Homo sapiens: one gene and its partner. The protein of the gene in region 2 purifies or fractionates together with the protein of the main gene of each other region. This does not show direct contact. Each region holds a gene or a part of one and is shown on either strand. Other genes may lie near its edges.

Region 1 (3,675 bases), on a different chromosome or scaffold from region 2:
CTCTCGGCGGCGTTCCTCCCGAGCCTTCTTTTGGCGCTGACGTTTCCTCTTCTCAATGTCATCTGCAGATTGGTCAGGTTGTAAAGAGGTAGACCCAGGACAACATGGTCATTACCTCCTCCCAGTATTAGCAGCTAAACCCACAACAGTAGGCCCAGCTGGACTAGATGAACAGATGAAGTGTTTAGGAGGTACTAAGACTCATGATACAGTTCCATAAGTTTCCTCCCCCACTGGGTGTCTAGCCACAAGAATCCCTGAACCCTACTATAAAGAGAAGCAGAGCAGGGGCATTCTCACCTGAGAACATCTCTAGGGTTTCCTTAGAGACCACAGGAGGTTGCAAAGCCAGTTCACAGATGCTGAACTCACAGGTGAGTGGCAAGTGAGAGAGATATCTGTGACGCTGTCGAACATCCTACATTGGAAAAAGGACCAATACTCAACAAAAGCAAGCCTAACTCTGAAAGCAGGGGGTCCTAACCCCGATATCCAACAATATATACATAACACAGCCAGCACTGGGGCTGGAAACAGTAGTGCTCAATTATCCTCATTTTGAAAAGCCAAAGAGAAACTGTCAACCTACAGCAAGGTGGAATAAGCAACCAAATCCAGTTATTTTTGGTTTGTACTGCAAAGGAGTGAACTGAGTCCAGCAACAAATAATCTAAAGCCCATCAGCTGTTTCTGATTTTTTCAAGGCCCCACAGCTGAGGGGGACGAACAGAGAAGATAAAGTTATTTGTTGGCAGAAAAACAGAACAGAAAAAAACCTGGGAACCACTGACAGAATAAATAACTGGGAAGGAAGATAAAGCAGATCTCCCTATTGAAAGACACTTGGCCTGAAATAGTAGAAAATGAAGCCCAATTTTTTTTTTCTGAGACATGGTCTTGCTCTGCCGCCCAGGCCAGCTCACTGCAGACTTGATCTCCCCAGCTCAGGTGATCCTTCTGCCTCAGCCTCCTGAGGAGCTGGGACAACAGGTGCACATCATCATACCCAGCTAATTTTTTTTTGTATTTTTTGTAGAAATGCCCTGGCTGGTCTGAAACTCCTAGCCTCAAGCAATCTGCCTGAGTAGGCCTCCCAAAAGTGCTGGGATTACAGGTGTGAGCTACCACATCCAGCCCATTTATTTTCATTTCTATTCTTTTTCTGCATATGTTTGATGAAAAATTTATAGTACTCAAAGAGTCTAATTTTAAATCTTACAACAAATTTGTGACATTTCTCCCAAGCAATAAGGAGGATAAGAAACAAAAATAAACTCCATCTTAAATAAAAGAAATATCTATATCCCCAAACTACAATCAATGAACCAGAGAAGCAGGGAACAGCATTAACTGATTTAACAGAACCCTGGCATGCTGAGGGGACACTTCACTTACAAAGAATTCACAGCACCATCACTGACAGAAAGACTAAAAATACAAAAACTAAAGGCCTTGAAGGTTTGTGAACTTAGGATGGCTAGGCCTACCTCAAAGAGATTAGGTTAATACTGCTGCCTGACCCTCCATTTCTACAGGAAGGCCTCACCTCAGACATGGAGTAGCCAGCAATCTCCACCACAGTTGCTGAGATCTTCTCGGGGCTCCTCTCCAGGCTGCCGTACTCCCGCACGAGGCAGCGCACATTCACAGGGTGCAGGAACATATGCTGTCCATCTTCCGCTGAGGACAAGGGGCTCTATCACACACCAGTCTTGGCCAGTCCCCAGGAGGCTCCCCACCCCTCCCCATGCCCAAGGGCTCAAGCCACCCAAGCCACAGGATCTAGTGGCGCTCCTCTGCTTAGAGCACCGGGTCACCTCTGAAACACCTCTGCGGCAACCCAGCCCTCTCTTCCGGCACCCTCACCTTGGTAAAAGTAGTAACAAGGAGAGCTGCTGAGGCGTGTGAAGCCTGACTTGGTGATGGGTTCCTGCTGGCTGGACTCAGTGCAAATGGTCCCCTCTTTAAGATTGTCATCTGCTAACTCCAAGTCATCACAGGCCTCTGGCAACCCCTCAGGCTCTGGTTCAGACACTGCTTCCTCCTCTTCTACCAGAGGGAGAGCAAGAGGTCTAGAAGGAGTGTCCAGAGAACAAACTTCCGTGGTTTCTTCATCGAAGGCAGACAGATACTCCAGCACACCCTGTTGCAGCAAACTCTAAGTCAACAGAAAGGATATCTCCTGCTTTCCGAAAGCAATGTGGCAAATGCAGACCTAAGAGCCAAGCTCCCTAGATGTTTATCTTAGCTGTCGTGTTCACTGATTTAACACCCCTGGGGAAAGAACTAATAACAAGCATACAGAAAATACTCATTGTCCCCTCTTCTCTTGAGAAGGTTTAGATCTCACAGTAATGCCTACCAGCTCAATGACAGCATTTGAGGAACGGCAGCCACTTAGTAACAGGAACACACTAACCTTCCTGGGTTGAAAAACAGACTCCTTCGCCAAGGGAGCCATCAGCACCAGTTGTTCCAGAGCAGCCACAACACCAGTGACCTCCCTTCTGCTTCCGGCCAATCCCGACAGAGCCTCTTCCCGAGTCTAACGTGGCCAGAGAGAACACCAGAGAAGGTTAAGTTTCCAGACACACACTTAGCTTGAAGGGCAAGGGCTTAGAATGGCCTCTCAACAGGACCAAAAGTTAAAAGGCAATGAGACCCAATGGGAAGGAATTAGGTGCTTAAATATCTCAACTTTGAGGGAAACAGGAAGCAAAAAGCATGCAATACCCACTAAGGATTGGAATCTGCTTAGAATCTGACACTGGGGAGTGTAAATTAGTTCAATCATTGTGGAAGACAGTGTGGTGATTCCTCAAAGACCTAAAGACAGAAATAAAATTTCACCCAGCAATCCCATTACTGGGTATATAGCCAAAGGAATATAAATCATTCTACTGTAAAGACACATACGGCCAGGTGTGGTGGCTCATGCCTGTAATCCCAGCACTTTGGGAGACTGAGGTGGGCGGATCACCTGAGGTTGGAAGTTCAAGACCACCCTGACCAACATGGAGAAACCCCATCTCTACTAAAAATACAAAATAACCCAGGCATGGTGGGGCATGCCTGTAATTCCTGCTACTCAGGAGGCTGAGGCAGGAGAATCACTTGAACCTTGGAGGCAGAGGTTGTGATGAGCCGAGATCACGCCACTGCACTCCAGCCTGGGCAACGAGAGCAAAACTCTGTCTCAAAAAAAAAAAAAAAAAAAAGAAAGAAAGAAAAAGAAAAACCAAATATCGCACACATGTTCTCACTTCTAAGTGGGAGCTAAATGATGAAACATGGACACATAGAGGGGAACACACACTGAGGCCTATCAGAGGGTGGAGAGTGGGAGGAGGGAGGGGATCAGGAAAAATAACCAATGGGTACTAAGCTTAATACCTGGGTGAAAATCTGTATAACAAACCCCCATGACACAGGTTTACCATGTAACAACCTGCATTTGTACCCCTGAACTTAAAAGTTAAAAAAAATAAAAGAGAATCTGACACAAACAACACTATACAAAAAACTTCCAGAACAGAAATCTAAGAACATGAAACTAACCTAGTTTTTACAAACTATGCTCAGACAGAGGTCCAGAGTAGTAGGAAGGATTTAGCTAACTCCACCTCAGCCTGGACAGCTCTAATTCTATGTAGCCTTTCTTATGCCTGTAATGGC
Region 2 (3,675 bases):
GGGCGGCTGCCGTGTCCTCAAAATCTCATTGGCCCCTACTCCTTCCTCTTAAAGGACACTCTCAAGTACCTTCCTAACGTGTAGGCCAGGTCTGAAAGGGCAGTCCTCCTTGGCTGCTGGTGACTTTCCAAAGCAATTGTCTTTCTCTCCCTACCTTGTCCATGGCTCCCTGTGCCCTTTCTTTGATCATTCTGCCTGATGCAGCAGCCATAAGACATGGGGAGCTGTCTGTCAAGTGGCAGGAACTGAACACAAGCAGCTTTGAGAGGTGGGGAGGAAATCCTGTGTTATTAGGAAATCTTGTATTATTACACACCCAGGACTGCACAGACCCCAGACCAGACTACCTGGGGTCTTGACAGAAAGATGAACGAGATGCAAAATAGCAGCTACTTCTTTTTTTTTTTTTTTGAGACGAAGTCTTGCTCTGTCGCCCAGGCTGGAGTGCAGTGGTGCGATCTCAGCTCACTGCAACCTCCGCCTCCCAGGTTCAAGCTGTTCTCCTACCTCAGCCTCCCGAGTAGCTGGGATTACTGATACACACCACTATGCCCGGCCAGTTTTTGTATTTTTAGTAGAGACAGGGTTTTACCATATTGGCCAGGCTGGTCTCAAACACCGACCTCAAGTGATCCACCCACCTCGGCCTCCCAAAGCGCTGGGATTACAGACGTGAGCCACTGCGCCCAACCAGCAGCTACTTCTAAAAGAAGAATCTGGTTTGTTCCCAGCGTAGTAACATCAACCTGTTTGAGAGACACCAGCCCACTCTCTTCAAAATGCTGCTGTAAGTTGATAATAATATACTGGAAAGCATTGGACATTTACTATGTACCAGGCACTGGCCTATTTACAGGTATCATTTCATTTAATCCTTACCACAACTCTATCAAGTCAAGTACTATTACATCCATTCTACAGATGCCTCAAAGAAGGCTGATGCACAGAGAGATTAAATAACCTGCCCAAGGTCACACAGCAAGGTCAGGCTCTAAAGCTAGGCCTCTAAGACCCCTGAGCTATAGCTGTTCATCACTGCAGTGCACTGCAATGCATGTCAGATACTCATATTAAATGCAAATGGTTCCATCAGAATTGCTCTAAGGCAGCACCACGCACTCACTGAGTACCTAAGAGTCACTGAGAGTTGAACAAACACACCACAGGCTAGTTCATTTTAAAACCATCTACAATACTCAGTTGTCAGAACTCCATAAGGTAGCCTGTGTTCCAAGTCACAAGCACACCAAAAGTCAGTTCCTCGAACAAAACTAGAGTTTTAAAAATAGCTGACTTGATAGTTTTTTTCCAACTTTCCCATTTCCCCTTTCCTATGACTCCCTCCCACATACACCATCCTTTGACACTGTCAAGAGAAGCTTCAACACAGGCCTAGAATCCTCACCCTCCTACTTCCAGTCCTTCAGTTGGCTCTCTTCCTTCATTCGAATCGTGCTTGAAATCAGTCTGTTGGACCCTCCTCCTTTTTCCCAGCCTAAGAGCATGAGATGGTCATTAACCCTACCATCAAAACTCAGAACTGCAGCAGGTCTATGCTGCTTCTCTCTTAATCACACAGACAGAGTGGGGGAGAGAGGGGAAGAAATAACTACAACACAACGTCTATTATAACATGACATAGATGGGAGTAAGGCCCATACTTGATACTTCTGCGTTCCTCCCCAGCTCTTGGCCCAGACACTCCGTATTCACTGACTAAATGGGTGAACAGACCAATACTGCATAGATGGGCACCAGAGACACCTCTGAGCCAAGAACAAACAAACAGAGGTGTTAACCCTAATGCCAGCCACCCCTACCCCCTCCAGTGCTTCTGAGGGCCTGCACGACACTGTCACCCTGAGCTCCCTGGGGGCAGTCTGGCCTTCTGCTAAATTGTGTAGGCCTCCGAGGTCAGCCCTTCTCTCGATTACCACCTGCTGCTCCTGAGAACTGCCTCCGCCCAGGGCCCCTTGCCCAGTGCCTCACTCCTGCTTCCTTCCAGTAGTCTTCCTCCTGCCTCAGATCTTGTCTCCCGTAACCCTCAGTTTATCTCATTTTTTCCCAGTTCCAAATAATCCTCCATCCACTATGTGATTTCCAACAGTCCATCTCCAGCTCACACACAACCCCTTTGGTGATGACAGGTCACACAGAGGAAGAGTCTGGAGCTTTGAGAAACTGTGGTGGTTTCGTGACAAGCCTGTAGGAATAGGTCTGCTTTGGTTAAGAAGGCTTCATACGCTAACTGCATATAATTCACTCTTTTATAAGGACAGTGAAATCTAACATTCAGGCAGTTTTAGATGAGAAGAGTATAGTGATAGTTTCAACACCCTCCCCAACAACAGTACATTCATGACATCAGAGCCAAAAAAATAAGAGAAGGGGTCTTTGGAGAAATTCTTCAATAAGGTAATCTAGACTCATTTAACACCCTCCTCTCCCTTCAAAACACACACACACACACACACACACACACACACACCCAGGAGAGCTTTCTGGGGCCTATGGCTAGAAATAGAGAGCTCAGGTGTTTCTATCAGCACAATATTACGTGGCATATTCCTCTAAGACAGATGCACCCAGTAGTTCCTCCGACCCACCTACTGAGACAGACACACATAGCACCTCCCCTCCAGGATGAAACAAATGCCTAGCCTCCCCAGCCCCTGCCTCCCCAGGAGAAGGCACACACTAATGCAAGTTTTCCCATAGGCTTTAAAGACAAATCTCTGCAGACTATGCCAGATGGTCTTTTTTTTTTTTCTTTTTCTTTTTTCGCTCTATGCCCTCCTGGCCCCTTCTCCACTTTCCATGGTCCCTCCAACTCAAAGAACTCAATTATCTGCCTGCAGATTTCCCCTTCCCCTCCTCGCAGCCTGCCCTAAACACACCCTCCTCCCAAGCCCATGCAGAGGCACAGAAGGAAGGCCAAGCCAGGGCTCGGAAGGGCTGCTGCCAGGCCTCCTCCAGCCTCAACTATGTGTTCCCCGGGCTTGGCTGCCTCGGCCGACTCTCTTAGGCCCAACGATGGAAATGGGGACGTTTCCAGGGCAATGACAGTTAACAGCTAAGAGGAGTGACAGGAAGGAAGATGTATTCTTCAATCCTTCAGTCCCAACTGCCCCACAGGGAGGTGCTTCAGAAGGCCCAGGCCTCAGAGCCTCCCATCTCCCTGAGGTGCCAGGTGGACCTCCCGTAATGCAGTTCTTAGAATCAGATGCGGTGGGGAGTGGGGCACAGCCTCTCTTAGGTCTAGGCTACCAGTGGGGCCATGATACTTGGATTGCCCTCCTGAATCTGTACACCCCGCCCTTCATTCCAGGGAAAGAGGCTGAACCAGCAGAACCAAGGGTGTCCTTGGCCTGTTCTCCAGTGTATTTCAAAGTTTCATCTTCCCGGGGTGACTGATATCTAATTTGAGAGAGAGAGAGCCCAAGGGGAGAAGGTACAGGAAGCGGAGTAGAAGGAGGAAAGAGGGAGTGAGAACAGGAATGTTACTTTTTAATCCTTAAGGAACATAGACAGATCCAATTTGTGACTCAGCTCTGGGAAGCCGGACTGATGGGAGTCGGGGAACAGCTGCAGCCCCAATCTAAGCTGTGGGCAGCTTCTCCTTCAGGCCTTAGAGGCTGTTGTGACATGACTCAACTAGAAGGGGAGCTGCTTGTT

The links.
Region 1: the proteins of DENND2B (region 2) and RNF10 purify together in Homo sapiens (co-immunoprecipitation; one large-scale study listed by IntAct). This does not show direct contact.

The regions. Positions count from the first base shown.
Region 1 is NC_000012.12:120,561,815-120,565,489, reverse strand, and holds part of RNF10 (E3 ubiquitin-protein ligase RNF10), read right to left. Parts: intron 2,546-3,675; coding exon 2,420-2,545; intron 2,159-2,419; coding exon of another isoform or gene 2,144-2,158; coding exon 1,867-2,143; intron 1,681-1,866; coding exon 1,547-1,680; intron 419-1,546; coding exon 301-418; intron 63-300; coding exon 1-62. UniProt on the Homo sapiens protein: E3 ubiquitin-protein ligase that catalyzes monoubiquitination of 40S ribosomal proteins RPS2/us5 and RPS3/us3 in response to ribosome stalling.
Region 2 is NC_000011.10:8,804,152-8,807,826, forward strand, and holds part of DENND2B (DENN domain-containing protein 2B), read right to left. Parts: intron 1-3,675.